Linked DNA regions of Homo sapiens. The protein of the gene in region 1 interacts with the protein of each later gene in a biochemical or structural test. Each region holds a gene or a part of one and is shown on either strand. Other genes may lie near its edges.

Evidence for each region.
Region 2: the proteins of PDZRN3 (region 1) and DGKI interact in a test that uses a peptide from one of them, tested with the Homo sapiens proteins (one large-scale study listed by IntAct).
Region 3: the proteins of PDZRN3 (region 1) and EFNB3 interact in a test that uses a peptide from one of them, tested with the Homo sapiens proteins (one large-scale study listed by IntAct).
Region 4: the proteins of PDZRN3 (region 1) and MUC3A interact in a test that uses a peptide from one of them, tested with the Homo sapiens proteins (one large-scale study listed by IntAct).
Region 5: the proteins of PDZRN3 (region 1) and KCNJ4 interact in a test that uses a peptide from one of them, tested with the Homo sapiens proteins (one large-scale study listed by IntAct).
Region 6: the proteins of PDZRN3 (region 1) and SDC4 interact in a test that uses a peptide from one of them, tested with the Homo sapiens proteins (one large-scale study listed by IntAct).
Region 7: the proteins of PDZRN3 (region 1) and FKBP4 interact in a test that uses a peptide from one of them, tested with the Homo sapiens proteins (one large-scale study listed by IntAct).

What each region holds. Positions count from the first base shown.
Region 1 is NC_000003.12:73,383,383-73,387,556, reverse strand, and holds part of PDZRN3 (E3 ubiquitin-protein ligase PDZRN3), read left to right. Parts: intron 1-1,771; coding exon 1,772-1,888; intron 1,889-2,626; coding exon 2,627-4,174. UniProt on the Homo sapiens protein: E3 ubiquitin-protein ligase. Plays an important role in regulating the surface level of MUSK on myotubes. Mediates the ubiquitination of MUSK, promoting its endocytosis and lysosomal degradation. Might contribute to terminal myogenic differentiation.
Region 2 is NC_000007.14:137,584,832-137,589,005, reverse strand, and holds part of DGKI (diacylglycerol kinase iota), read left to right. Parts: intron 1-1,795; coding exon 1,796-1,909; intron 1,910-3,659; coding exon 3,660-3,797; intron 3,798-4,174. UniProt on the Homo sapiens protein: Diacylglycerol kinase that converts diacylglycerol/DAG into phosphatidic acid/phosphatidate/PA and regulates the respective levels of these two bioactive lipids.
Region 3 is NC_000017.11:7,708,202-7,712,546, reverse strand, and holds the end of EFNB3 (ephrin-B3 precursor), read right to left. Parts: coding exon 4,297-4,345; intron 4,113-4,296; coding exon 4,020-4,112; intron 3,913-4,019; coding exon 3,808-3,912; intron 3,381-3,807; coding exon 2,971-3,380; 3' UTR 1,175-2,970; downstream 1-1,174. UniProt on the Homo sapiens protein: Cell surface transmembrane ligand for Eph receptors, a family of receptor tyrosine kinases which are crucial for migration, repulsion and adhesion during neuronal, vascular and epithelial development.
Region 4 is NC_000007.14:100,955,893-100,960,066, forward strand, and holds part of MUC3A (mucin-3A precursor), read left to right. Parts: coding exon 1-4,174.
Region 5 is NC_000022.11:38,445,049-38,449,222, reverse strand, and holds part of KCNJ4 (inward rectifier potassium channel 4), read left to right. Parts: intron 1-4,174. UniProt on the Homo sapiens protein: Inward rectifier potassium channels are characterized by a greater tendency to allow potassium to flow into the cell rather than out of it.
Region 6 is NC_000020.11:45,337,967-45,342,140, forward strand, and holds part of SDC4 (syndecan-4 precursor), read right to left. Parts: intron 1-4,174. UniProt on the Homo sapiens protein: Cell surface proteoglycan which regulates exosome biogenesis in concert with SDCBP and PDCD6IP.
Region 7 is NC_000012.12:2,797,544-2,801,717, reverse strand, and holds part of FKBP4 (peptidyl-prolyl cis-trans isomerase FKBP4), read right to left. Parts: intron 3,990-4,174; coding exon 3,847-3,989; intron 3,013-3,846; coding exon 2,892-3,012; intron 2,631-2,891; coding exon 2,474-2,630; intron 1,869-2,473; coding exon 1,778-1,868; intron 1,680-1,777; coding exon 1,596-1,679; intron 1,327-1,595; coding exon 1,141-1,326; intron 602-1,140; coding exon 362-601; intron 1-361. UniProt on the Homo sapiens protein: Immunophilin protein with PPIase and co-chaperone activities. Component of steroid receptors heterocomplexes through interaction with heat-shock protein 90 (HSP90).

The DNA.
Region 1 (4,174 bases):
TGATAAATAATTAAAACTGATATGACCACCGAATAAGTGCTAGGCCCTCCGTGGAGCACTTTACACACAGGAGAGCCTTCCCAGGAGATGGAAGTTCCCAGAGATTCAAAAGTTACCCAGGAAAGGCCCAGAAGGAGGGTGATAAAGCAGGGAGGGGTTCAGGCCCAAGTAATCTGATTCAGAAACCTCTGTGTTGTAATAACTCCTTCCACAGGAGGAATCATGAACTCACCCAGGTGGCACTCTTGATCCACTTAGAATGGCTCCAGCAACACATCTAGGGCAATCCAGTAGTAGATCTCTTTAGGTATGTGTATTAGTCCGTTTTCATGCTGCTGATAAAGACATACTCGAGACTGGGTAATTTATAAAGAAAAAAGAGGTTTCATGGACTCACAGTTCCACATGGCTGGGGAGGCCTCACAATCATGGTGGAAGGCAAAAGGCACGTCTTACGTGGCAGCAGGGAAGAGAGATGAGAACCAAGCAAACGGGGTTTCCCCTTATAAAACTATCAGATCTCATGAGACTTATTCACTACCATGAGAACAGTATGGGGAAAACTGCCCCCATGATTCAATTATCTCCCACGAGGTCCCTCGCACAACACGTAGGACTTATGGGAGCTACAATTCAAGGTGAGATTTGGGTGGGGACAGCCAAACCATATCAGTATGAAACCCGATTGAAAAAGCCGAGAGACAGACAGTGGCATACGGGGCATCTGATTCTCCACAGATGGGAGCCTCATGAGCTCAAAGGGAACTTCAGCAATCATCTCACCCACAGTCACAGACTTTTTCTTAAAGGGCCAGATAGTAAATGTTTGACTTGGGTGGCCATACCATCTCTGCCATGACTGCTAGACTGTCACTCTAGTGCAAAAGCAGCCATAGACAATTATGTCAGCGAATGAGCATGGCTGTGTTCTCATTCAACTTTTTTTATTATTATTTATAAAAATACCAGGCTGGATTCAGCCCATGGGCTATAGAGTGCCAACTTCTGAATAGTTCACTCTTTTTTGGGCAAGGCAGATAAAGGCCTCTTAAAAGTGATATCCAGCCAGGCTCAGTGGCTCACGCCTATAATCCCAGCATGTTGGGAGGCTGAGGCAGGAGGTTCACTTGAGGTCAGGATGAGGCCAGCCTGGCCAACATGGTGAAACCCAATCTCTACTAAAAATACCAAAATTAGCTGGGCATAGTGGCGCATTGCCTGTAATCCCAGCTACTCGGGAGGCAGAGGTTGCAGTGAACCTAGATCGTGCCACTGCACTCCAGCCTGGGAGACAGAGTGAGATTCTGTCTCAAAAAAAAAAAAAAAAAAAGTGATATCTTGCCCAAGCCAAACAGCTAGTTACTGTATCAGAAAGAACTCTTTTCACACTGAAAATCATTTTTCTATGGGACCTGTTAAACTCGTGTCTGGTCCAGCAAGCAGGTGGACCAGCTAAATCTACCTGACCCTCCTACACAGGTGTCCTACTGCACTGAAGGTAGCTGAGATGGATGAAAGAGTTTCACCCTGAAAAAAAAAAATCATGGATATTAAAGACTTCCCCAGATGTAGTGTAGGGTTGGAGGTCTGTTTAATGTAAGGGTTGGATAGTTTCCTGACTTAACAGCAAATCATTGGGCAGACTGCATTTTGATGACTCTTGGAGGAAGCCCTAGAAATATTTTCCCCCAAGGTAATGTCATTTTTAAAAAAACATAAATGAACATGAAAGGAAACTTCTAAGGCATGTGTTGGCTGCTCTTGCCTGCAGCTGGATGAGGGCTGGATGGATGATGACAGGAACGACTTTCTGGATGACCTGCACATGGACATGCTGGAGGAGCAGCACCACCAGGCCATGCAATTCACAGCTAGCGTGCTGCAGCAGGTAACGCCCACGCACCAGTCCCTGACACTCTGCCCTGCTGAGCTGGAGGAAAATCTGCTTCCTCCATCTCCCTTTATGGTGCTAAAGACCATCAGAAGTCCATCCACCTGGAAGGCAGCAAGAAAACAGCCTCAAGTACTTTTCTATTTGAGCACCAGACCAGTGAAATGCAAGCTGGTACTGTCCCTAGCTAAGCTTTTAAATCTAAGCAACATTGCCAAAGCAAAGCTGACCTTCTGATAATTTGTTTGGAAAACATATGCGTTGGCATTACCATAGATTGCAAAAAGCCATGTTTTCCAAAGTAAAGCAATCCCCTCTGTTTAACAGGAGCTGCTTGGAGCTCTCTAGCTCCCTGCTATGCTACTACCATTGTCAGAGTCTTAATGAGCCACTTATTGAGTCCTTATTGAGTTGAACAAGGACCTTTATACATCCTTCTACCTGTGTACTGATTCATTTAACAGAATCATTGAGAATCATTCATTGAGATAAAGTGACTATTATCCTCATTTTACAAAACTGAGGACAAGAACAAGAATAAGTGACTTGCCCAGGTAGATACGGGTAGGTGTAGCTAAGGCCCACGCTATTGACGTGGTCCTACTGTCAGATGCTGTCCCTTGGCCTTAGAAATGTACAGCCTGCCCTATCCAGAAACCGCAAGGAAAGGTCAAACCTGAGTACCTGCTGCGCAGGCCTCCCTCACTGTGACCCTTTGTTCTTGTGTTTATGCAGAAGAAGCACGACGAAGACGGTGGGACCACAGATACAGCCACCATCTTGTCCAACCAGCACGAGAAGGACAGCGGTGTGGGGCGGACCGACGAGAGCACCCGTAATGACGAGAGCTCGGAGCAAGAGAACAATGGCGACGACGCCACCGCATCCTCCAACCCGCTGGCGGGGCAGAGGAAGCTCACCTGCAGCCAGGACACCTTGGGCAGCGGCGACCTGCCCTTCAGCAACGAGTCTTTCATTTCGGCCGACTGCACGGACGCCGACTACCTGGGGATCCCGGTGGACGAGTGCGAGCGCTTCCGCGAGCTCCTGGAGCTCAAGTGCCAGGTGAAGAGCGCCACCCCTTACGGCCTGTACTACCCTAGCGGCCCCCTGGACGCCGGCAAGAGTGACCCTGAGAGCGTGGACAAGGAGCTGGAGCTGCTGAACGAAGAGCTGCGCAGCATCGAGCTGGAGTGCCTGAGCATCGTGCGCGCCCACAAGATGCAGCAGCTCAAGGAGCAGTACCGCGAGTCCTGGATGCTGCACAACAGCGGCTTCCGCAACTACAACACCAGCATCGACGTGCGCAGACACGAGCTCTCAGATATCACCGAGCTCCCGGAGAAATCCGACAAGGACAGCTCGAGCGCCTACAACACAGGCGAGAGCTGCCGCAGCACCCCGCTCACCCTGGAGATCTCCCCCGACAACTCCTTGAGGAGAGCGGCGGAGGGCATCAGCTGCCCGAGCAGCGAAGGGGCTGTGGGGACCACGGAAGCCTACGGGCCAGCCTCCAAGAATCTGCTCTCCATCACGGAAGATCCCGAAGTGGGCACCCCTACCTATAGCCCGTCCCTGAAGGAGCTGGACCCCAACCAGCCCCTGGAAAGCAAAGAGCGGAGAGCCAGCGACGGGAGCCGGAGCCCCACGCCCAGCCAGAAGCTGGGCAGCGCCTACCTGCCCTCCTATCACCACTCCCCATACAAGCACGCGCACATCCCGGCGCACGCCCAGCACTACCAGAGCTACATGCAGCTGATCCAGCAGAAGTCGGCCGTGGAGTACGCGCAAAGCCAGATGAGCCTGGTGAGCATGTGCAAGGACCTGAGCTCTCCCACCCCGTCGGAGCCGCGCATGGAGTGGAAGGTGAAGATCCGCAGCGACGGGACGCGCTACATCACCAAGAGGCCCGTGCGGGACCGCCTGCTGCGGGAGCGCGCCCTGAAGATCCGGGAAGAGCGCAGCGGCATGACCACCGACGACGACGCGGTGAGCGAGATGAAGATGGGGCGCTACTGGAGCAAGGAGGAGAGGAAGCAGCACCTGGTGAAGGCCAAGGAGCAGCGGCGGCGGCGCGAGTTCATGATGCAGAGCAGGTTGGATTGTCTCAAGGAGCAGCAAGCAGCCGATGACAGGAAGGAGATGAACATTCTCGAACTGAGCCACAAAAAGATGATGAAGAAGAGGAATAAGAAAATCTTCGATAACTGGATGACGATCCAAGAACTCTTAACCCACGGCACAAAATCCCCGGACGGCACTAGAGTATACAATTCCTTCCTA
Region 2 (4,174 bases), on another chromosome or scaffold:
AGGGGTTGGCCACTGGCATTAGGCATTCCTATTTTTGAATGCCATCTATATCGTGTAAACTGTGTGATACTAAGGAGGTCACTTACCTTTCCAATTCTCTGTTTCCTTATCTATAAGATGGAAATGAAAATTACATTAATATCTGTCTTACAGATAATGTTTTAAAGTTTAATACAATAATTCATTAAAGGACTTTGCTCAGGCATGGCACATAGAAAGGCATCGGTATGGGCCTGGCACGGTGGCTCACGCCTGTAATCCCAGCACTTTGGGAGGCCGAGGTGGGCAGATCACAAGGTCAGGAGATTGAGACCATCCTGGCTAACACGGTGAAACCCCGTCTCTACTAAAAATACAAAAAATTCGCCCGGCGTGGTGGCATACGCCTGTAGTCCCGGCTACTTGGGAGGCTGAGGCAGGAGAATGGCGTGAACCCAGGAGGTGGAGCTTGCAGTGAGCGGAGATCTTGCCGCTGCACTCCAGCCTGGACGACCGATTGAGACTCCATCTCAAAAAAAAAAAAAAAAAAAGCATCGGTATGTCCATCTTTGTGTTACTGTGAACTCCTGGAGAGCAATCTTTCTACCTTATCTGTCACAGCCTAGCTCATTTATCTCTTTATTTTGATTGCTTAGTTCTGGGTTTTATATGAAGTAGTGTTCAATAAACAAATGATCTAGTATTTTTGAGAAACATGACTCGTACAAATATAGAATGAATACATGTCAAAAAATTTGCTTAGCTCTTTAATGAGGGAGCCTGCAAGATAGTAAAGCTGATTTATCAGAACTAGAGAAAAAGAATTATGTACTTCGTATCAAAATAATTTTTCTAAATTTGATGCAAAACTGATCAACGTCCTATGAGAGAATAAAACTATAAACTTTAAAGCAATCATCTCTTCTTGACATTTGTGTCTCTATAGGACAGAAATCTATGTTAACCTACAGTTACACAATTCTTAGGCCTGCGAAACACTATTTTAGTATGACATTATAAGGACATTCAAACTCCTTTTTGCCATTTCAAATTTTGGTCAATTTTTCTAATTAGTTATAAGACTAAACCCAAAGTATTATTTATCTTAGAAAAAGATTAAACAGGGATATGATTCTAGTATATAAGTATCAATTTCCTGCCTAAACTTATAATAGGTACTAGGTCTGTCCATAATTATGTTTTCATAATGTTTCATTAAGGAAAATAGAGGGATATTCAGGAAAACACTATCAATTTCCAAGATGATACTATAGAGGGCAACCATTTAATAAGTACTTATATGGGCCATGTACCATGTTAAGTGCTTTATGTACATTTTAGTTTAATTAGTAAACAATCGTGTGAGGTACGTATTATTATCCCCATTTTGAAAATCAAGTAAATGAGTCTCAGTGAGGTTAAATAATTTAGTCAAGGTTATGCAGCCAGCATGAGTCAGAATTGAAATTCAGTCTTATTCTGAGTTTTATATTCCCTCCTATGCCCTGTTATACTACCAAAGTCTTAAACTCTGAGAAATTTACAAGGGTGTTTCTAGTTAAACGCACGCATGAATGGGTTTAGTTTTGCTTGTGTGATAGAACATGTGCAAAATGGTCCTTTTTCCTTTAACCATTTTGTAACTGCCTGTGATAAGCGACCTTTCTGTTCCCTACTCACTGAATGAAAACATACATGTTTTAAAGAAAAATAAAACCATTCTGTTTAGCTCTTGGAAGCCTCTGTTTCTCAAACTGTTTTCTTTGTAACTTATTTATCTTTCTTATATCTCTTCTGGCCCCCGATACGCCTGTAGGTGGGCTGGATCCTTTCCATCCTGGATGAACTGCAGCTGAGCCCTCAGCCTCCTGTGGGGGTCCTTCCTCTGGGGACTGGGAATGACCTGGCTCGAACTCTCAACTGGGGAGGGGTAAGAACTGCTCTCGGGGACTGCCCATATCATCAAACAACAAACCGGATTCCAGATCCACTGATGTTCTAATGGAAGAGGGGGGTACTGCTGCTGCTGTCCCAGGCATAAGTTAGAGTTGAGAATCAAAGTGCCCTTGAGCCCTTATTTGATCTGGTAGCTTCTTCAGTTTAAACTTAAAATCAGCTAGAAGGGAAAGGAAAGCTTGGTATGAGAGAAATATAGTGGTTAGTACACAGGCCTGCGGCTTTTTGAGGTATCCACTAAAAGACAGTGGGTGAGTTTGGCCTCAAGTCTGCGTGCAAAAGGATCATACAGACTTCAGTTAATCCAGACTCTCAGCCCCAGCTAGGATAGCACATCTGGTTCAACTTTACACACCTTACTTGGGAGAGTTATGACTTTTTTTTTTTAGCATTTTATTTTGTTTTGTTTTGATTAGTGTCATCAGAGCTTTGGCTGTATAGGTACTTACCTGTCCTTTCCACAATGAAGCCAACTTCAGGCAAGCTTGGGGGAAATCGTTCTGCAGTCACTAAACAGCCATTTATTTACTTACGTATGTTATAGTACTAAGATAGTAAGAAGGCGCAATATATATACACACACTGTGTATATATACATATGCATACACATATACAGCCCCACCAACTTTTTTTTTTTCTTTTTTGAGATGCAGTCTTGTTGTGTCGCCAGGCTAAAGTGCAGTGGTACGATCTCAGCTCAGTGCAACCTCTGCCTCCCAGGTTCAAGCAATTCTCCTGCCTCAACCTTCTGAGTAGCTGGGATTACAGGTGCCCGCCACCCTGTGCAGCTAATTTTTTTTGTATGTTTATTAGAGACAGGGTTTCGCCATGTTGGCCAGGCTGGTCTCAAACTCCTGACCTCGTGATCCACCAGCCTCAGCCTCCCAAAGTGCTGGGATTACAGGCTTGAGTTACTGCACCTGGTCCCCACCAACTTTTTATCTGCTCATATGAGAGCATTACATGGGCTGGGCTCTGTGAAAATTATATTCAGATATTTAGTAGATGCTAGTTGACCTTTGGGCAAATTAACCTTCCACAGGTCTTTTTTTAAAGTAGGCAGTGTAGAAATAAAAAACGTATTTACATGGGGCAACTAAGGTTATCATCAGTGTTAACTTCTCCCTTCCAAATCAGAGCCTTGCATATCCTATTGAGGACAGTCTATCGTGCTGTCAGTAATGGATCTTCAAGGATTAAGTAGCTCCCTAACAGGGCCATTCCTCAGTGAGACTTGCTTCAGGTCACGGGAAGAATGGTGTCTTCCAAGGAGGTCAGGGAGAGGTGATTGAGAGGGAGTGTTAATAGATAAGCATTGTCAATCCAATCCCTCCTTGATTCTTTCCCTGCCTCTCCAAACACATTTGTTTTGTGTTTCCCCCAAATTCCTCCAGTGAGAGCCATGGGGAGTCCTGTTTTTTACTCTGATAACAAAGTAGCCATCCAGCCTCCAGTATGACCCTTAATGTGTACCGGTGACTATTGGTTCTTGCTGCTGACAAAAAATATTCCTCAGCTCAAACCAGCCAGAACTAGTGTTTCTATGTATCTTACTTATAGTATTGTCTCAAATTCTAAGTACCTCAAGGTAAAAAATTTGCTCTTCAAACCTTGCTAATTATAAAATAAACAATATAACGGCTTGGCTCTTCCTTGCGTAAAATAGCATTGGCTTCACTGTTCTCCACTCTGGACAGCAATGGATATGTTCTCTGATTCCTCAGGGCTACACTGATGAACCTGTTTCTAAGATCCTGTGTCAAGTGGAAGATGGGACAGTTGTACAGCTAGATCGCTGGAACCTCCATGTGGAAAGAAACCCCGACTTGCCTCCAGAAGAACTTGAAGATGGCGTATGTAAGGTTAGAGAGTTTTTTGTTCTGCAGAAAGGAGCCCTGGAGCATCTGCCTGAGCTACAGGAAAAAAAATCCTGGCTGGAGAGTCATGTGCTGATGAATTCCTATGAGATAATGTGATAATATTTGAGTTGATGGCTACTGGGGCTATGTGTATAATATTACCACCTAATGATTCTGCCCCATAGACCTCTAAATACCTAGATTCCGTACCTGCTTCCAAAGCTCAGGGAGCTCTTCTCTGTCTTCAACTTCTGCACTAGAAAGGCATGTATTTTGTCTTAATCATTCATGTTAATAGCAAATAACCTATGAGAAGATGAAAAAATATGTATATTTGTAAGCATTGGGCACTTGTTCTTTCAGTAGAAATATAACCTCCT
Region 3 (4,345 bases), on another chromosome or scaffold:
CTCCACCTGTGCCTCTAGATGTAGGTGGAGGGGGAGTCTCCCTGATCTCCCTTGCCCCTCACACACCACCCTGCCCCAGTCTTGGACCCCTCCCTTTCTCAGTGGGCCCTGTTGCTGGGCTCTGGGTTGCCATAGTGACGGTTGCCAAGTCCCTGAGGCTGATAGCCAGCGATGGGGCTGTCGGCTCCATCCACGCGGGAGGCTGAGGGGGGCTTCCCATTGTGTAGAGAAGGGGATGTTGCCATGACAACCAACCCCCACTAAGGGGCAAGGACCAGCCTTTCCACCCCCTACGAGCCTCCCCACTTCGGGCAGCTCCAGTGTGGGCTCAGAAGGCAAGAGTAAATTCCAGACAGCCCAGTACCTGGCCTCCCAGCTTTCAACTCCCCTCCTGCGGTGCCCGCACCTCTCAAGACCCAGGCATCTTGCTCAGACGGGGAGGGGGAGGAGCAGGGGTCCCACTGGACAGAAGAGAGGAAGAGGGACCCCTTGACCTCCAGACAGATGGGAGACAGCGGGAGGGGACCTAAAGTCAGGGGAGGGGCAGGGAGGGCAGAGGTTGTGACCCCTGCTGACTCGCTCCAGTGATGCTCCTGACGGCTGCTTTTGTGGTTGGAGAATGGGGCTAAGTCTAGGGGACTGGGCACCTGGGCTTTTTGGGGGAGAAGAGCCTCGGTTATGGGTATACAGGGAGCCAGGGCACACGCAGCTTGATGCCTGGGTCCCTCCCTGAGTCCTTCCTACTTCCTTCTGATCAGCCACATCCCTTCTCCCCATGAGTCCCCAACAGCAAAACTTCTCAAGTGCCTTGGGTAGGGATGGTAGGGAATAGACTTTAACATGTGAACATGTTTTTACCACTTTGATCCTAATTGCGTCTTACCCTGTCTCTGGTGCTTTGGCTTAGCAAGACACTCAGACTGTCCCCATGGATGAATTGGCGACCCCACTCCTGCCTGCATTACTCTCTCCCTCCCCTAGAGGTGACACCTTCCTCTGCCTTCTCGCCCAGCCCATTTTCGCCTCCCCAAGCACTGCCAACCTCACCACTCCAAACTAGCCCTATCCCTACCCACCCCCCTTGGTTGGTTTCATGCAATCCAACCCTCAGCTGAAAGCCATTCTAACCAAGCCTTTGTCCCAATTCAAGTCCAGTCATTCTCCAGCCTTCTTGTCAACTTTTGAAGTTTTTTATTTTTATTTTTTTTGGTTTTTGTTGTTCAAATTTCCCTTTTACAGTAAAACTACTGAGGTGACGGCATACCCCGCCACCATGGCAATATCAACTTCCTGTTCCCCAGAAGGAGCGATTAGAAAAATCAGGAAGGAGCTGGGAACTACAGCACCAGAGAGGTGAACTTGACCTCTGGTGGACAAAGCAACCATCTTGGCTGGTGATTGAGGTGGCCAACCTGGTGCCCAACAACAGCTTTGATCTAATAAAACTGAGCTGGGAGGAAACTGAGGCAACACCCAATTGCACACTAGAGGGCAGGAAGAGGTATCAGCTGGTCACTATGGAAACAGTGGCCTTTGCTAAGTACCACTGTCAGCTAGACCAGCCAGTAGGCCACCATTTTGGTCACTAAGAAGGGAACTGTGTTGAGTCTGAAAGGAGTCAGAAATGTAGGATGGAATGAACAAGACAGCCATCTGGGTTACTCGGGAGAGCACATGGGTTCTTGGGGTAGTCCTGTTGATTAACAGAGATTATACTGGGATATGGAAAGGAAAGAACAAGACAAATTAGGCCTGCCACAGCACATGGCAGTCATCTTAGCTGTCCTAAAATCAGCACAGAGCACAAGGGAAGGGAGATCTTGGGAAGTGCCACTGAAGACTGGGAAAAGTCCTTCTCGGTCCACCTCTAACCTCTTACAGTCAGTAAGTTCCAGCTTCCTCCTGAAAGGAAGTTCTTCCCGCCCTTCTTCTCCACAGAATAAGAACCATCCACCTCCCACCTCCTGATCCCCCAGACTAAGCCACTTGGAGTTCCAGCCAGACCACTTCCTGTTTCAGAAGTGCTACTTCCTGTCCTGGATGAAGGCACTTCCAGTTCCTGCTGCACTGCTTCTGCTACTTCCCAGGCCATTTCTGTCCGGGCCTGGTCACCTCTTGTCTGGAGCAAGTCACTTCCGGTCCCAAGTGGCCCATTCAGCATCAGACCAAGTCCATACATGTCCCGACCGGTTCATATCTTGCTATTGGCCACTGGACAAAACGGGACACTTCTTCTCATGGTAGCTGTCATGACCCAACCACCCCAAATGGCTGGAGTAAGTATGTAGAGGCCTGGGCCAGGCCAGAGAATGGAGCCCTGCTGCCCATGGCCTGAGCTGGGGTGGAGTGTCAGAGCCTTCCCCATAAGGCCCCCATTTTTGGCAGACTGAGGGGAGTGGTTGGTATGAGAGGTCAGAAGGGGGGCTGAAAGCTAAGGGGAGAAATGCTTTGATGCCCCCACCCAGGAGATGGGAGAGGCACAGGATAAGAAGCCAAGAGGGTGAAAGGAGATGTGGGGAGGAGGATGCTAGGGAAGAAGAACAGACCTAGAGACGGAAGAGAGGGAAAGAATAAGAGATAGAGAAGAGAAAACCAGTGAGAGGCAGAAAGAAGGCGGTGCCAACCAAAAGGTGGGCTGTTCCCGCCCCTAGCTCTGGGTGGGTGAGGGGGACAAGGATGCCTGGGTCATGGTCAGAGAGGAGGCTGAGCCTGTGCCCCTCCCCAAGGAAAAAGGATCCAGGGACACTGAGACAGAGGGGGGCACCCATGGCCAAACGGGAGGGCAGGAAGTGGGGCAGTGGGAATCCTAAGGAATCCTAAAAGTGGAGACGAGGACAGCAGCCGGGAGGAGTGAAGGGGCTGGGGGGGCACAGGGGGCCGAGATGTTAGAGGTGTCCCTCAAACCAGGAATTAAACTGGAGGAGCACCCCAAGAAGGGCTGGATTCAGGATAGCCACGTGAGAGGAGCCCTCATACCTTGTAGTAGATGTTTGGAGGGCTCTGGGGGGGCCCATCCTGCACGATATACACAGGATGCCCATAGTCACCACTCACCTTCTCATAGTGGGGGCAGAAGGGGGGATCTGCAGCCCCGCCACCCCGCAGAGCTATCCCTAGCTCCCCAGGCTCAGCCTCCCGAGGTCCCATCCCACCTCCACCCCCCAGGCCCAGAGACCCTCCCCTCCCGAAGGAGCCAGGACCAGGGTGGCGACTCTCCGAAGGCTTGGCCCGCCGTCTCCGCCAACACATGGCACCCCCAGCCCCTGCCACGCCCAGCAAGAGCAGCGCCAGCCCCCCTGCTGCCCCAGCCACTGCAGGCATGCTGGGAGGGGGCAGGGGGCCTTCAGCACCCCGGGAGGTTGCATTGCTGGTGGGGTCACCTGGCAGGGAAGGGGTGAAGGAGGAAAGAGGGGGAGGGACTGAAGGAGCCACCTGGGCACCTGGACACCCAACCCTGGGGGTCCCCATGGGCTTCCCTTGTAGCGCCCAGGCCCCTTGGGGACCCCATCTCTCCTCCCCCTCCGAACTCTGCTCAGAATCCAGGTGTCCAGCCCTTCAGCTTCCTGCCACGGAGTCCTCCCCACTTCTCTGACAGCACTGATTGAAGCACTGACTTGGCTAATTAGTTCTAATTGAGTCTTTTCCTCATTTGGTTTCCATTCCCCTCCCACCCTCCCATCCTCTCTTCTCCTCTTTCCTGTATCACCGCCCCCAAAACTGAAGAGGGAGGGAGGGTGACGGCAGGGCAGCTGGGGTCTGAGAGCAGAGGAAGCTGGGGAAGGCAGGGGCCTAGCCCCTGGTTCCTACCTGGCAGGTTCTCCTTCCCAGGCTCCAGGCTGTGGGCTGCCCCTCGGTCTCTTTCCATGGGCATTTCAGACACAGGTTTTCGGGGGACAGCCCCTCCTCGGGGACCTGGAGATGAGGAAGACCCAGAGAGGGGCTGAGACAACTGCCCCAACCATGATCGTACTGCCCCAACGTCCCTTCGTGCCCAGGAGGTGTCCCCCAGCCCCACTCACTTTGTCCCACTCGGAGAAGCACCTTCATGCCTCTGGTTAGGCACACACCTCCCTGCAGGCTCTCCAGGCCCTCCCGGGTCCCATCCGATGTGGCTGGGAGAGAAAAGCCAGAGGAAGAGGTTGGCACTCCAGAATCTAGCCCTGATTCTGGCCCCACACCCTGGTGTGAACACTGCCTGAGGGCACTGGGATCTCCCTCTTGGCTGCAGGGGTCCCCCTCCCTCTCTGCTCAGTATCAGGAGCCCCCCACTCAATCGTGCCCTCTGCCCAGCAGTACCAATGATGTAGTAATCGTGGTGCGAGCGGAACTCGTGGCCCCAGAGATT
Region 4 (4,174 bases), on another chromosome or scaffold:
TTTTCTACAGAATCTCTCACAACAGCCATGACTTCTACTCCCCCCATCACTTCTTCAATCACTCCCACCGATACAATGACTTCTATGAGAACTACGACCTCTTGGCCCACAGCCACTAATACGTTATCACCACTCACCAGTAGCATTTTATCTTCTACACCTGTCCCAAGCACAGAGGTGACCACCAGTCATACCACAAACACCAATCCTGTATCCACGTTGGTGACTACACTCCCCATTACCATCACCAGGTCTACACTTACATCTGAGACCGCCTACCCTAGTTCTCCCACAAGCACTGTCACAGAGTCCACAACTGAAATCACCTATCCCACCACTATGACAGAGACATCATCTACTGCCACCTCTCTTCCACCCACCTCTTCCTTGGTCTCAACCGCAGAAACAGCCAAAACTCCTACCACAAACTTGGTAACCACCACCACCAAGACCACCTCACATAGTACCACCAGCTTCACTTCTTCAACCATCTACTCCACAGCCAGCACACCCACCACTGCCATCACCTCAGTTCCCACTACCTTGGGTACCATGGTGACTTCTACATCCATGATCCCATCTACTGTGAGTACAGGTATCCCTACCTCACAACCAACAACTATTACTCCCTCATCCGTGGGCATCAGTGGTTCATTACCTATGATGACAGACCTCACCTCAGTGTACACAGTCTCCAGCATGTCTGCAAGGCCAACAAGTGTCATTCCTTCATCTCCCACTGTCCAGAATACAGAAACCTCAATCTTTGTTAGCATGATGTCTGCTACCACTCCCAGTGGAGGACCAACTTTCACAAGTACTGAGAACACTCCAACAAGGTCCCTCCTGACAAGCTTTCCAGTGACACATTCATTTTCCTCTTCCATGTCTGCCAGCAGTGTAGGGACCACTCACACCCAGAGTATCTCCTCACCCCCAGCCATCACCAGTACACTCCACACAACAGCTGAATCCACCCCATCACCTACAACCACCATGTCATTCACAACATTTACAAAGATGGAAACACCTTCATCCACTGTAGCAACTACAGGCACAGGTCAGACTACATTCACCAGTTCAACAGCCACATCCCCTAAGACCACCACACTGACTCCTACCTCTGACATTTCCACAGGATCTTTCAAAACAGCCGTGAGTTCTACTCCCCCCATCACTTCTTCAATCACCTCCACATATACGGTGACTTCGATGACAACTACCACCCCTCTAGGGCCCACAGCCACTAATACGTTACCATCATTTACCAGTAGCGTTTCATCTTCTACGCCTGTCCCAAGTACAGAAGCGATCACCAGTGGTACCACAAACACCACCCCTCTATCTACATTGGTGACCACATTCTCCAATTCCGACACCAGTTCTACACCTACATCTGAGACCACCTACCCTACTTCTCTTACTAGTGCTCTCACAGATTCCACGACCAGAACCACCTATTCCACCAATATGACAGGTACATTGTCCACTGTGACCTCTCTTCGACCCACCTCTTCCTCTCTCCTCACCACAGTAACAGCCACAGTTCCAACAACAAACTTGGTAACCACGACCACCAAGATCACCTCACACAGTACTCCTAGCTTCACTTCTTCAATCGCAACCACCGAGACCCCCTCACACAGTACTCCCAGATTCACTTCTTCAATCACCACTACCGAGACCCCCTCACACAGTACTCCCAGATTCACTTCTTCAATCACCAATACCAAGACCACCTCACACAGCTCTCCCAGCTTCACTTCTTCGATCACCACCACCGAGACCACATCCCACAATACTCCCAGCCTCACTTCTTCAATCACCACCACCAAGACCACCTCACACAGTACTCCCAGCTACACTTCTTTGATCACCACAACCACCACCACCTCACACAGTACTCCCAGCTTCACTTCTTCCATCACCACCACTGAGACCACATCCCACAATACTCCCAGCTTGACTTCTTCGATCACAACCACCGAGACCACATCCCATAGTACTCCCAGCTTCACTTCTTCGATCACCACCGAGACCACATCCCACAGTACTCCCAGCTTCACTTCATTGATCACCATCACCGAGATCACCTCACACAGTACTCTCAGCTACACTACCTCAATCACCACCACCGAGACCCCCTCACACAGTACTCTCAGCTTCACTTCTTCAATCACCACCACTGAGACCACCTCACACAGTACTCCCAGCTTCACTTCCTCAATCACCACCTCTGAGATGCCCTCACACAGTACTCCCAGCTTCACTTCTTCGATCACCACCACTGAGAACGCCACACACAGTACTCCCAACTTCACTTCTTCAATCACCACCACCGAGACCACATCCCACAGTACTCCCAGCTTCACTTCTTTGATCACCACCACGGAGACCACCTCACACAGGTGGGGGACCACCGAGACCACATCCTACAGTACTCCCAGCTTCACTTCTTCAAATACCATCACTGAGACCACCTCACACAGTACTCCCAGCTACATTACCTCAATCACCACCACCGAGACCCCCTCAAGCAGTACTCCCAGCTTCAGTTCTTCGATCACCACCACTGAGACCACATCCCACAGTACTCCCGGCTTCACTTCTTCAATCACCACCACTGAGACTACATCCCACAGTACTCCCAGCTTCACTTCTTCGATCACCACCACTGAGACCACCTCACATGATACTCCCAGCTTCACTTCTTCAATCACCACCAGTGAGACCCCCTCACACAGTACTCCCAGCTCCACTTCTTTAATCACCACCACCAAGACCACCTCACACAGTACTCCCAGCTTCACTTCTTCGATCACCACCACGGAGACCACCTCACACAGTGCTCACAGCTTCACTTCTTCGATCACCACCACCGAGACCACCTCACACAATACTCGCAGCTTCACTTCTTCGATCACCACCACCGAGACCAACTCTCACAGTACTACCAGCTTCACTTCTTCGATCACCACCACCGAGACCACCTCACACAGTACTCCCAGCTTCAGTTCTTCAATCACCACCACTGAGACCCCCTTACACAGTACTCCTGGCCTCACTTCGTGGGTCACCACCACCAAGACCACCTCACACATTACTCCTGGCCTCACTTCTTCAATCACCACCACTGAGACTACCTCACACAGTACTCCTGGCTTCACTTCTTCAATCACCACCACTGAGACCACCTCAGAGAGTACTCCCAGCCTCAGTTCTTCAACCATCTACTCCACAGTCAGCACATCCACAACTGCCATCACCTCACATTTTACTACCTCAGAGACTGCGGTGACTCCCACACCTGTAACCCCATCTTCTCTGAGTACAGACATCCCGACCACAAGCCTACGAACTCTCACCCCTTCGTCTGTGGGCACCAGCACTTCATTGACTACAACCACAGACTTTCCCTCTATACCCACTGATATCAGTACCTTACCAACTCGAACACACATCATTTCATCTTCTCCCTCCATCCAAAGTACAGAAACCTCATCCCTTGTGGGCACCACCTCTCCCACCATGTCCACTGTGAGAATGACCCTCAGAATTACTGAGAACACCCCAATCAGTTCCTTTAGCACAAGTATTGTTGTTATACCTGAAACCCCAACACAGACCCCTCCTGTACTGACGTCAGCCACTGGGACCCAAACATCTCCTGCACCTACTACTGTCACCTTTGGAAGTACGGATTCCTCCACGTCCACTCTTCATACTCTTACTCCATCAACAGCCTTGAGCACGATCGTGTCAACATCACAGGTTCCTATTCCTAGCACACATTCCTCCACCCTTCAAACAACTCCTTCTACTCCCTCATTGCAAACTTCACTCACATCTACAAGTGAGTTCACTACAGAATCTTTCACTAGGGGAAGTACGTCTACAAATGCAATCTTGACTTCTTTTAGTACCATCATCTGGTCCTCAACACCCACTATTATCATGTCCTCTTCTCCATCTTCTGCCAGCATAACTCCAGTGTTTTCCACTACCATTCATTCTGTTCCTTCTTCACCATACATTTTCAGTACAGAAAATGTGGGCTCCGCTTCTATCACAGGCTTTCCTAGTCTCTCTTCCTCTGCAACTACCAGCACTTCTTCAACCAGCTCCTCTCTGACCACAGCTCTCACTGAAATAACCCCCTTTTCTTATATTTCCC
Region 5 (4,174 bases), on another chromosome or scaffold:
AAGGGAGGTGGGTACATGTCTGCCAGCCTAGGCCTCCCCTTTCCTTCCATGCAACAGCTCAGCCACTCCTCCCTGTGGCTGCTGGCCAGTCCCTGACCAGCCCTGGTGCCAACAGCTGGGACGTCTGGCCTTGGCAGGCAGGGGAGGGTGAGGTGCCCCAGAGAGACATTGGCAGGTCAAGAGGTCCTTAGGGGCTACCAGGAAAGGGGGTCCTTGGTGTTCCCGACCCCAGCAGGAGCTGTGGAGGGAGAAGTCAGCGTTGTAATGGTGACCTGTCAGCTGGGAGCTTTGGTCTAGGCCTGGGGGGCCCCCAGCAGGGCAGAGGGGAGCTGGGGCATGGGAGGTGCAGTTGGGCGGAGGAGCTCCCTGGGACTGGGATGGAGGAGAAGCCCCCACCAAGCCTGGCCCAGCAGCTCCTGTCTGCGGCTGCATTGGCCTTCTCTCCATTTCCTCTCCTGGGAGATGGAGAAACCGAGTCCGGAGACCACCAGGGTTTGCCCAGGGTCACTCAGCAATGGTGGCAGAGCCTCTCAACCCGGAGCTGCTCCTGACTCCTCTGTGTCCTGATGGCTCCCAGGGCTGCCGGCCCCTCCTCTCTCACTGACACTCCCCAGAGCTGTGGGGTCTGTGGGAGGCGAGCAGGGTCTGGGTCTCTTTAAGCTCCTTCTCCCCAGAAAATCCCCAGATCGGAGCGAGGGGAAGGGCAGCACTCCCTGGTCACAGCAGTAGGAAGGGTGGCCTGCGTCAGGGGCCTGGGATCGAATCCCAGCTCAGCCCCTCACTGGCTCCGCATGACCTTGACTAGGCCACTGTCCATCTGGGGGCCTCTCTTTGCCCCTCTGTGTATCGGGGGCCACCCATGGGGATGGTGGGGCGTGCTCAGCCTTTTCCTGTTTTGCCTGTCCTGGGAGAAGCTCACACACCAGCGACCCGGGCTGCAGGGATGGGAGGGTTCCTTTTTTTTTTTTTTTTTTTTAAGACGGAGTTTCGCTCTTGTCACCCAGGCTGGAATGCAATGGCACAATCTCAGCTCAGTGCAACCTCTGCCTCCCGGGTTCAAGCGATTCTCCTGCCTCAGCCTTCCAAGTAGCTGGGACTACAGGCATGCGCCACCATGCCCGGCTACTTTTTTCTTTTCTTTTCTTTTCTTTTTTTTTTTTTTTGAGAGTCTCACTGTGTCTCTCAGGCTGGAGTGCAGTGGTGCAATCTCGGCTCACTGCAACCTCCCCCTCCCAGATTCAAGTGATTCTTCCGCCTCAGCCTCCCGAGTAGCTGGGACTACAGGCGTGTGCCACCACGTCTGGCTAATTTTTGTATTTTTAGTAGAGACGAAGTTTCACCATGTTGGTCAGGCTGGTCTTGAACTCCTGACCTTGTGATCCGCCTGCCTCAGCCTCCCAAAGTGCTGGGATTACAGGGGTGAGCCACTGCACCCGGACGGGAGGGTTCTTTAGCTGGGCCACAGGAGAGGGTGCATGTGCTGTGGGGAGCTGACCCCATTTTACTGATGGGGAGATTCAGGCCTAGGGGAGGGGTGTGCCCATCTTCAAGTTGGTGGCAGAGTTGGCCCCTGGGACACCTCAGTGAAGCTTCCCCCAACCCCCTGCAGCTCCTCTCCCAGCCCCCACCCTAGACTCCCCCAGGAGCCTCCCCTCTCCTCATAGGCCTGAGAAGCCCAGGACCCTCTGCCCTGTGAGTGTGAAGGTACCACTCAGCCTGGGAGACAAATGGGATGGGGTCCGCAATTAGGGGCTCCTTGGGGCCATACAGGGGAGGTGGTGGGCACAGGCTGGAGAGGCCCTGGCTGGGGGTGAAATGGAGCAGGCAGAGGGGCTTTGGGCATCCTTCAAACCTCGTGCCCATGGATACCCTTCTGCAGTTATCCTGAGAAATGGGCCTCAAGTCCCTCCTCACTGTTCCTCACGGGGAGCTCCCCATCTCCGGGGAAGCCCACTCGTGTCTGGAAGGTTCTGCTAATTGATCCCTGACTCCCTCTTTCCTTCGCCCTGCCCTCTGGGGCAGAGAAACCCAGCCTGCTCTCAGCAAGACAGGAGGAGTGGCCCACCTCCCCCTCCCCTACCCCAAGGCTCCTCCAGCCTCAGTTGTCCCAGGCGAGGCCCGTGACTGGGAAACAGAAGATCTGGGTTCATGTCCAGCTCCACCCCTTAGCAGCTGCGGAATCTGGGGCAGGTTTTTCACCTCTCTGAGCCTTTACCCCCTGCCCCGTAAGGGTGGGCGTTTGCCTCTGTTTCTTTTTTTTTTTTTTTTGAGATGGAGTCTCGCTCTGTTGCCCAAGCTGGAGAGCAGTGGCGCGATCTCAGCTTACTGCAACCTCCGCCTCCCAGTTCAAGCAATTCTCTGGCCTCAGCCTCCCAAGTAGCTAGGACTACAGGTGCGCACCACCATGCTCGGTTAATTTTTGTATTTTTAGTAGAGATGGGGTTTCACTATGTTGGCCAGGCTGGTCTCGAACTCCTGACCCTCATGTGATCCATCCACCTCAGCCTCCCAAAGTGGTGGGATTATAGGTATGAGCCACCGTGCCTGGCCCTTTGCATCTGTTTCTGAGGGTGACTGGGAAGATCCTGTGAGCCTGTGAGTGAATGAATGTATCATAGCTCGTTGATATGAACTACTTTGTGACCCAACCACTCAAGGGCACTGCTGGGCCTGATTTCCAGACCCCCATCACCAGCCACTGCCTTGGGGTACCACTTCTCTGGACAGCTGAGCCTCCCCCGGCCCTCCCTCACCCAGGCCCCCAGAACTGCTTTGGTGGGCAAGGCTGGCTGAGTGCCAGCCCCGCCATGAGGCTTCAGATCCTGAGCCCACCTGACCTTGGAAAGGGCCTCTCTCTGGCTGGGCTCCAAGGCTGCCCCCAACAGACACCCGGCAGTGGCTGGGCAGCAGAGAGAGAGAACTGGGTGGGGCAGAGAGAGGACCACTTGCCAGAGCTGTCCCGGCTCCCTGAGACAACAGGCTAGAGGACAGAGGAGAATGGCCAGCCAGCCACGGGCGGGGCCCCACTTAGCAGCTACATCAGCAGCCCGGCAGAGCTTACTCCTCACAGTCAAGTGGGCTGCCTGAGAAGTGGGTGAGCGCCCTGTCCTGGGAGATGTGTAAGCAACTGCTGAATGGCATCTGTTATCAGGGCAGGAGGGGGCTCTATTAAAAGACCCGGGGAAAAAATTGGAACCAGACCCCAAAGAGTCCCTGTTATTTGGGCTGCAGAGTGGCGGTCCTGTGAGCTGGGGGGTCTAACAGACTTTTCCCAGTATTCCCCCATAACATCCAACAATTCCCCACATGGTTGTGTGTCACAAAGCCCGGAGTCCAAGCACCGCCCGTCACAGCTTCAAGACACACGCCGGATCCCATTTCACCGCTCCTAACCCCCACTCAGGCCAGTGCTTTAAAATTGCACACAGGTCCTGCCCCGTTAGTGGGTTGGGAAATTGACTTAGTGAGTTGCACTACTTGTTTTCCGAAAATGAAATTAAAAAGAAAATTTCAAAATACTATGCATGTAGTGAGGGTAAATATTATTTTGTGACGCTCTTACTTCAGCTTTAAATATATAGCCGGGTGCAGTGGCTCACGCCTGTAATCCCAGCACGTTGGGAGGCCGAGGCGGGAGGATGGCAAGAACCCAGGAGGTTGCAATTGAGCTGTGATCGCATCACTGCACTCCAGCCTGGGCATTGGAGCAAGACTCTGTCTCTAAAAAATAAATATAAAGTAAGTTAAAATAACAAACAGGATGTTTGCTTTTACTACGGATTTTGGTCAAAAAACTTGAAAGCTACTGTCCTGTGTAGAAATCCAGGAGGCGCCCTGATAGAGGTTCTGATGCTCAGGTTCCGATTTCCCTGGATGTTTGGTTCCTAAAGACATAGGTGCCACAACTTCCAGGATGCTGCTGTCCTGCCCTCAGAAGTAGCCGCCTGTCCCTTGCTCAGTGGACCACCCAGGTCCAGGCACCCATGCTCCTCCAGAGCCACCACCTCTCCCCAGGGCCTAGATCCCAGGCCGGGCCAAATTCCCTGCTTTCCGCTCAGCCCAGGCCCAGCCCTGCTCTGTCCTTGTGCCCTCCTGCTTGCCCTCATCTTCCTAGGACCTTCTCTTTATGCCCTTTCACACACACACACGCACACACACGCATGCACGCACACAT
Region 6 (4,174 bases), on another chromosome or scaffold:
AAGCCCCCGCACATAGCCCGTGCCTGTGGCTTTGGTTTGGCAGAGCAGGAGGAAGGCTCCTCATGGCTGCCCAAGTGCCTATACCTAAGGGCAGGGTCCCTGTGCTCCTACCTCCATCTCCTGTGGCAAATCCCCCAAGAACCCAAGTGACAGGCCTTAACCAAGCACACAGCCTGTCTAGGTCCTTTTAATAGTCCCTTTTTGCAGAGATGGAAACAAGGGCTCAGAAAAGTAAAGTCACTTGTCCAAGGCCACACAAGCAGGAAGTAGCCACACTGGGCCAGAACCCAGGCTTCACTGACCTGGACATTTAACCACAAACACATAAACACACGCATGAACACATATGTACACGGGGTCACCAGCCTGCCCCAGGCTCCAAGGGAGCCCTGTTAAGTAGGGGGGTCAATCTAGCCGGGAGAAAGAAAGAATGGTACACTTTGGCCAGCTGTTGACCAGGTCAAAGTCCTCAACAGGGGCTGTAGTTCCATCAGGAGACTTGTCTCAGGCTGAGAGACCTTTTCCCACCCCTCACTGCCCCCAGGAGCCATGGAAGGTTGTTTATGCATCCAGCCTCTCTTTCAGTATGTGAAAGTGCTAAGAGGTATTTCAAAACAACCCATGGGATTAGCATGCCCACTGGCTGTTAGGAATTACCTCCGTTTTACATTAGAGAAATGAAGGCTATGAGCGAAAGTGGGGCGTGAAGATCTTGCAGCCAAGTCAGCAGCAAAACCAAGGCTGAAACCAAGATTTATTCCCAGTTCAGCCCTCTTTGTGGGCACCTGTTCATCCTTAACCCTTCATTTTTATACTCAGTTTCCAAAAAAGAAACTAGTCTAGTCTGAAGTCACCCCGGGGCTCCGCGGCACGGCCTGGATTCGATCCTATTTCAAAGCTCTGAAAAGATGGAGTCTTCAAAGGCTGCATTTAGATGAGCCCAGGATTTCCCTCCTACAGCAAGTCAAGGGGCTGGGAAGAAACTTCTTCCAGCTCCCAGTGGTGATAGGAGGACACAGGGAATTAAATCTCTCCTTGAGCTCTGGAAGCCCCCTCTCTGCCCTGTTTTGGTCCCTTCTCCACCCATGACCTCTGACAAGAGGGAAGGCAACTCCAAAGTGGATAAGAGCCATTTAGGACTAGGCCAGCAAGACGGGACCAAGCCCCGTGGGATTGTGGGCAATCACTCTTTTTTGTGTAAAGGTTGGGAAGGCACCAACGGTCCTCCTCTCCTCCGCCCTCTTTTCAGATAAAGCCCATTGAGTCTGGGGTGACTTTGAAGAACCAGGCCACCCAGCAGCCAGGCCCAGCCCTGACCAGAGATGGACCCCGCCCTGCTCCTGGCTAAGAATGTGGTCTGTTCTCCTCAGCTCACCCCACCTTTGCCCAGGCATGTGTGTTCGTGTGTATACATGCACAGGCACCCTCTCTGGGCTCTCAAGTCTCCTTGTATCTTTGTCCCTTTCATGAACACACAACAGAAATTACCAACTAAGTAAGACAGTGGTGGCTAGGCACAGTGGCTTAATCCCAACATTTTGGGAGGCCAAGGTGGGAGGCTCACTTGAGCCCAAGAGTTTGAGATCAGCCTGGGCAACATGGTGAAACCCCATCTCTACAAAAATTAGCCAAATGTGGTTGTGCACGCCTGTGGTCCCAGCTACTCGGGAGGCTGAAGTGGGAGGATCACTTGAGCCCAGGAGGTCGAGGTTGCAGTGAGCTACGATCGTGCCACTGCACTCCAGCCTGGGTGACAGAGGAAGACCCTGTCTCCAAAAAATAAAAAATAGGGCAATGGGCCTAGGTCCCACAGACTCTGCTGGCCCTGTGGCTGGTGGGGATCTGGGATTAGTGCCTGGGGGTTTAGAGATACTACATTCTTCCCCAGACTGTTGGGGAGAAAGAAGGGAGGGGAAGTGCTCTTTTGTTCTACAGAAACTAACACCTGCCAACAGAAGGTATCTGATTTTATAACCTAGCAAACAGACAAGACAAGGGATTTTGCCAAGGTCATCCAAGCAGCTGGCAGCGGAGATGGACTTAGAACCTAGGTATCCTGGCTCCCAGACTGGAATTATCTTCTCTCCCCTTCCAGGGTGTTGGCTGCCCCTAAGGGTCTCAGCAAATCCACAGGCAGCAGCTGTCATTACAGTTATACTCCCCATCTAGTCTTTTGGCTATAGGCATGAAGCTACGAAAAGGTCCTATCCCAACCCTATCCCCAAATCCTATGGCTTCTATCACCCCAGGAAAAGCATGAGTGACTAAAAGGAGTATCCACTACATGCCAAGCACCATGCTGGGTACTTTGTTTATACAAGTTCATTTAAATGGCAAAACAGCCTTGCAAGGTGCTCTACCCATTTTGCAGATGAGAAGACTGAGGTTCAGCTGAGTCACTTATCCAACGTCATGCAACTAGAAAGCTAGAGCTGGGATTCAAATCCAGATCTTCCTCAAGAACACGTCCCAACCACAACTAGGCTTCTCACTGCCACCCACTCTTCACTTCTCTCCAGCCTAACCCGCCAGTCCACAACACACTGGCTGGGCCAGGGCTCCAGGGCAACCCTGTCCCTGCCTAGGAGTAAACAAAGGTGAAAGTGATATCACTTAAACAAAGGAACAGAAACTTGGCTGGGGCACCAGAGAGGAGTTCAGGGTCAGGGCTTGGATAACTGTGAACTAATGAGAGCCTCTCCCGACCTGGCTCCTCCCCAGGGGAGGTAGGGTCGGGGACACACTTGACCCTTCTTTCAGGAGGCAAGACCAGAAGGGTAATAACTGGGCAAGCCAAATTTAGTGGGGAGAGGGGATGGTGAGTACCTGGGGCTCCAACACCTGGACCCACCAGAATGATTTCTAGCAGGAGACCCCCAGCAGCGTACACTACTCGTAACTGTTCTTCCCCACCCCACCCACTTCTTAAGGGCCAGACATTCCCCAGAATGGCTAAAACCTGGGGCCCACAACTGTGACTCTACCACCCAGAGTGGTTGTGCATCAAGGCAGATTCACAAGTGTGAGTTCTGCCACTTCCTAACTATATGAGCTTGGGAGTTTATTTCATCTCTGAAATCCTCAGTTTCCTCTTTTGTGACTAGGGCTGGTAGCACCTTGCAGGGTGATGAGGATTAAGAGGAATGCATTTGTGTGTGCAAGGGACCCAGCACGTGATCAATGAATAGTGGCTGTGATTAACCCCTACCTGCCTTCCTCCTGGCCAGTGGGATCAGTGCTCAAAGGATCAGAGGCCTGGGAAAACTTGCAGAGGCAGTTCTGTTGCTGGAAGGAAGCTAGCCTGGGGACAGGGAGATGGTGCTTTGCAAACTGTAAAGGAATATAATCTATAATAGGTTATCATTTTGCTTCTGAGCCCAGAGACTTTTCAACAACCAATCAGGTCCCTTCAGACTGTGAAAAAAAGATACAGAGATAGTCAGAGACCTGCCCAAGGTCACACAGCTTTGACCACCTGTCCTAAGCAGACAGAGGTAAAGACCATTTTTATTTTCCCCGAAGGTGCAAATGACAGTGACCAGAAACACCTGAAATTCTACTTGGGGACCTGGGTCCCCAGGGACAAAATAAATAAATAAAAATCTAGAAGGTAAAAAGAAACTACACACCAATCCATGGTCTGGTGCTCTGGTGCCTGAATGGTTAAACCAGGTCTGGGGGTGGGGGTGGAGTGAGGGTTCAAATGTCGCCTTCAAGGTCGGGTTACTCTGAACACAATCACTCAGGAGAGAGCCAGGCCTGGCACTGCCTGCAACCAGCTTTTCACCAAGCCTCAGGGCAGCCCATTCCCACAGCAAGAACTCCAGGATCCTAGGGTGCCAGCTAGAAATGGGGGAAGGGTTCAGGAGCCTCTGGATGTCTCCCTGCCAGGAGCTGACCCAGCACCCTTGTTACTAACTCCCTGGATGATCGTGGACAATTCCCTTCTCTGAGCCTCAGTTTTCCAATCTGTAAAAGACAGGTCTCAAAGAGACAAGCCTCCCTCTGTCCCAGCCCAGTAACCAAGCTGGGCATTGCTCCGATTACCGGTGGAGACAGCCAGGAGGGGGCTGGCTCCCTCAGGGCCTCAGAGACAGAGGTGCATTGAAGTTGGAGCTTGTAATCTAGGCAGCAGATCCGAAATCCCTGCTGGATCCGAGGGCTAGGGAGGCTC
Region 7 (4,174 bases), on another chromosome or scaffold:
CAGTGGTGCCATCCTAAGTCACTGAGGTCTCTACCTACTGGGTTCAAGTGATCCTCCCACTTTGGCTCTGCAAAGTGCTGGGATTGCAGGTGTGAGCCACGGCGCCTGGCCCACAAGAAAACATAAATCGGGAATTACACTCAGGGCAACCAACCCAACTTCTGGGGCTTGTGGGTAGGTTTCCCGCACTGATCACAGAACACTGGCCCCAACAGCAGGAACACGTGCTCCTTAATGCTCCAGGGAAAAGGCAACTTCTGGTTTCCGGGATTGGCACAGACAACCAAAGGCACAAAGAGCCCACAGTAGCCAGGTTAAGTGGAGGGATGCTATTCCAACTGTTCCCCACCCCAATCCTCACCTTGTTCTCCTCCTCAGCCAGCCTCTCAAACATATTGGCATAGAGCTTCTTCTCCCGGGCAAGCTGCCTTCGGATCCGCTGCTGGCACACAGCCAGCTGGGTCTTGGCGGCTTTGTTGTTGGGGTAGAGCTGCAGGACCTTCTGGAAATCAGCCCGTGCCAGTTCAAAGTCATTCACGGCCAGGTGGGCCTCTCCCCGGCGGAAGAGGCCCTTCTCGTTGTTGCTGTCCAGTTCTAGGGCCTAAAGAATGCAGAGAGGAAGCCACATTGTGGGAGCTCAGGGCTTGTAGCTCATCTGGCCTAGACTGGGTTCCAAAGGTACCCCTCAGGAGGATGAGGAGGAATGCAAGTGGCTGGCTGCACCCCAGGAAGAACAAGGCCTGAGGCATTAAATGGAACAATCCAGGGACCTCATTTAATCCAACAGGCAGAGAGGGAAGACAGCAGGTCTTTGGATGAAATAAAGACTTCAGACATTAACATTCACTTTAGAATAAAGCAAGTAGGTAAGCGGAGAGGCTAAGAACCAAGGTGGAAGAAAACTCTTTATGTGATTCTTCCCATTCCGTGTCCTCCTCCTTCTTGCCAACTGCTTCCCACCAAAGCTAAGGTTCTTGCTATGAATACTTGCATCCGTGCCTTTGGTCTGTAACCTCAGAGCTCCCACTGATCCACCCTGCTATCCCTGCCCTAGTCACCAAGGGGAAGTTTCAGACATGCTGGCAGCTCACCCAACTCTGCCTGTGAATGCTGCTTCCATGACCTCTGAGGGGGCCTCACCTTGTTACAGCTTTCAATGGCAGCAGAGAAGGCCTGTAGTTTCAGATGACACATGGCCAGGTTGAGGTGAGAGGCCAGTCGAAGGGCCTGTGCTTTCTGTGCTTCCTCATTGGAAAAACTAGACTCATATTCCAGCCAAGACACGATCTTCTTATACTGTAGTAAAGCTTGCTTGTATTTACCTTCCTGGAATGGGAGAGAGGCTCAGGCACCTGGCACAGTTTCAGTGGTACTAGGCTCTTATACCCTGCAGACATCAGTGACACATGGCCACAAGAGGTTCCTGCTCCCACCCTTCCCACTGGCAAGGCCAGCAAGCTCACATATATGAAGTGAAGATGGCAGGTGCCAACCTGTCCACTTCTTGGCAGAAAATGATCTCAGTCACCAAGGGAAGGGGAGGCTCAGAGCAACTCTTCCTGGGAGTGTCCTTAGGACAATGACTGTTGGCTCACCTTGAAGTACACAGTGCCCCGCTCTTTCACTATGGTGCTCTGTTCCAGCTTCTCTTCTGAATTCATCTCCCAAGACTCCTTGGCCTGCCACACCCCAGGAGAGAAACAAAGTTGTCAGCTACCCCAGAGTCACGTACAGGGTGGAACTTGACTTTAGATGGGAAGACCCTGAGCAAACTTACCTTTTCAAAACTCTTGAGGTGTAATTCATATTTCAGCTCAGCATTTGGTGGGATTTGGAACTTTTCCTTCCCAACACTGCCAAAAGCATAGCTGGAGGGGTGAAAAACACTATGTATCATCTTGGCAACACTTAACCTGCTCCAGGCTGAAAAGGCTTCCTGTCCATTTCCTGGAAAGTACCTTCCCATCCCTTGAGACTTGGTTCAAATGTTTGGCAAATCTTCCCTGGCCTCTTCACACTGTCAGATGGTCCCTCAGCATCCTTCATACCCTTCTAATAACTTACAGCCAGGCAGCAGTGTGATTACTAATTTAAATAGCACCTCACTAAACAATGAGCTAGAATTAGAAGGCAGAAACAATGTTCTATTAGTCTCTGAAGCCCTATAGGAATTTTCAGCAGTGCCTGGCATGTAGTAGCTGTTTCAGTAATGACTGAAATGAATTAATGGGAGAGGAAAATCTTGATGGCAGAGGAGAGAATCTGTAGCAACTATGACTGAAAAGACTGGGCTTAGATCCAAGGAGATGTAGACAATTGGGCCATACTTCTAAGTACACTGAGGATATCATAATGGTGTATGTTTGGTGTGGCCAGAGTTAAAAAGGATACAAACAGCTGGTTCTACAATTCATTTTATATCTTTGATCTTGGTTTGCCTGCCTGCCTACCCTACGAAGTGCCCACCCCTCACCTGGGCTTGAGGTACACGATGGAATGTTCTCCTTTCTCCATGCGCTGAATGGCCCTCTCCAGACCATAAGGCAGATCCAGGTTCTCCCCCTCGCCAATCTCAAAGCGGAGCTCCCGCTGGTCAAAGAGCTTGTCCTTGTAGTACCCTTCCAGTGCAACTGGCATGAAAGAGAGGCAGTGTACCAGAGTTGTAAGAGGGCAGGTGACTGAGGAAGGATGCCATCAGCCTCCCTGCATCACCCCCATCATCCCAAGATTCTCCTGTGTTCTCAAATCTGGAGTGATATGAAGAGAATATGGTCCAACCCCTCATTTTATGGACAAGAAGATAGGCTCGGAGAACGGAAGTGTCTTGCCCAAAGCCACACAAGGCCTAAATATCAGAATGAGAATTGAAAGCCCAGACTGTACTGTCTCACCCTCCACGATAGCACCCTCATTGGGCTTAGCATAGCCTTCACCGCGAGTCTGTATTCTGCGAATGATTCCGCCATCTTCCTCTTCCGTCAGATCTTCTCCCTTAAACTCAAACAACTCCACCTGTGGGACAAGATGTGACACAATTCCTTCCCATGCTAACTCATGGGCAGTGAAACACAATCTTTCTCATCCGAGAGAGTCCCTACTAACTGCCAGGCCGGATCTGACCACAAGGGCAGTCACAAGGAGTTGGGTAGAGTGGCACTTTTTTTCAGTTCTTGGGAGCTGCCCTAATCTCAACTTTGGTAGAGGTGGGCAGACTACATAGATTTCAGTTAAGCTGAGGAGAGCAATCTATTTGCTACCTGCTCTACTAACACGGACATATCAGGACGCGTCCCAGATAATCCTAATTCACACTACCTGATAAGCCCAACCTGGTAGGTATTAGAAATGATTACCCAACATCTCTCAGCAGTTTCTCAGTATTCAAGGGCCCACGGATTGGCTCAACCATTTTCAGATTGAACAATGTCAAGTTCTATCTCCTCAGTGAAGCCTTTTCTCAGCCCTTGACCCACAGGGGAGCTACTGCTCCCTCTTCTGGTCTCTAGAGCACCAATATTCTGTACTGCCATTTATAACGGGACATAGTTTCTGACATCCCGACTCCTTTCAGTATTCTTCTGGGTACCGCTCTGGAGATAAAGATGCCTTAACCCTGACCATGCTTTGAGTCTGGAGAGGGGCTTGTGCCTGCCTCTTCCCACCCGAAGCTTCTATTACTTCCATTACTAGCAGCAGCAGAGCCCTCTGCATTTCTCCTCCCATAAGGCCAGACCCTCAGCCTTGGCTACATTGTCTCCAAGAAGCAGGAAGGGCTGGAGGGCAGCCAGGCATTGGGCTGAGATAAGGCCTGGCTCTTAGCCTGGATCTCAGTGACCAAACACTCACCTCAAATACAAGCGTGGCATTGGGGGGAATCTTTGGAGGACTGCCTGCTGAACCGTAGGCATATTCTGGTTTGCAGGTGATGTGGCACACCTCCCCCACCTTCATGGTGGCTATGGCAATGTCCCAAGCCTTGATGACCTCCCCTGCAGGTACAGAAGCAAACAGGACCGCCTTAGCAGGGTTCTGATTCTGGGCTCAAACAGTGCTCCTGAAGAGTTACTGCACCACACTCATGGGGAAGCTGGACATCCTTTAGAAATGGGACCAGAAGGTGAGGTACCTGGTTGTATTAAGTGCTACCAGGTCTAAGAACTGTAAAAGATCACGT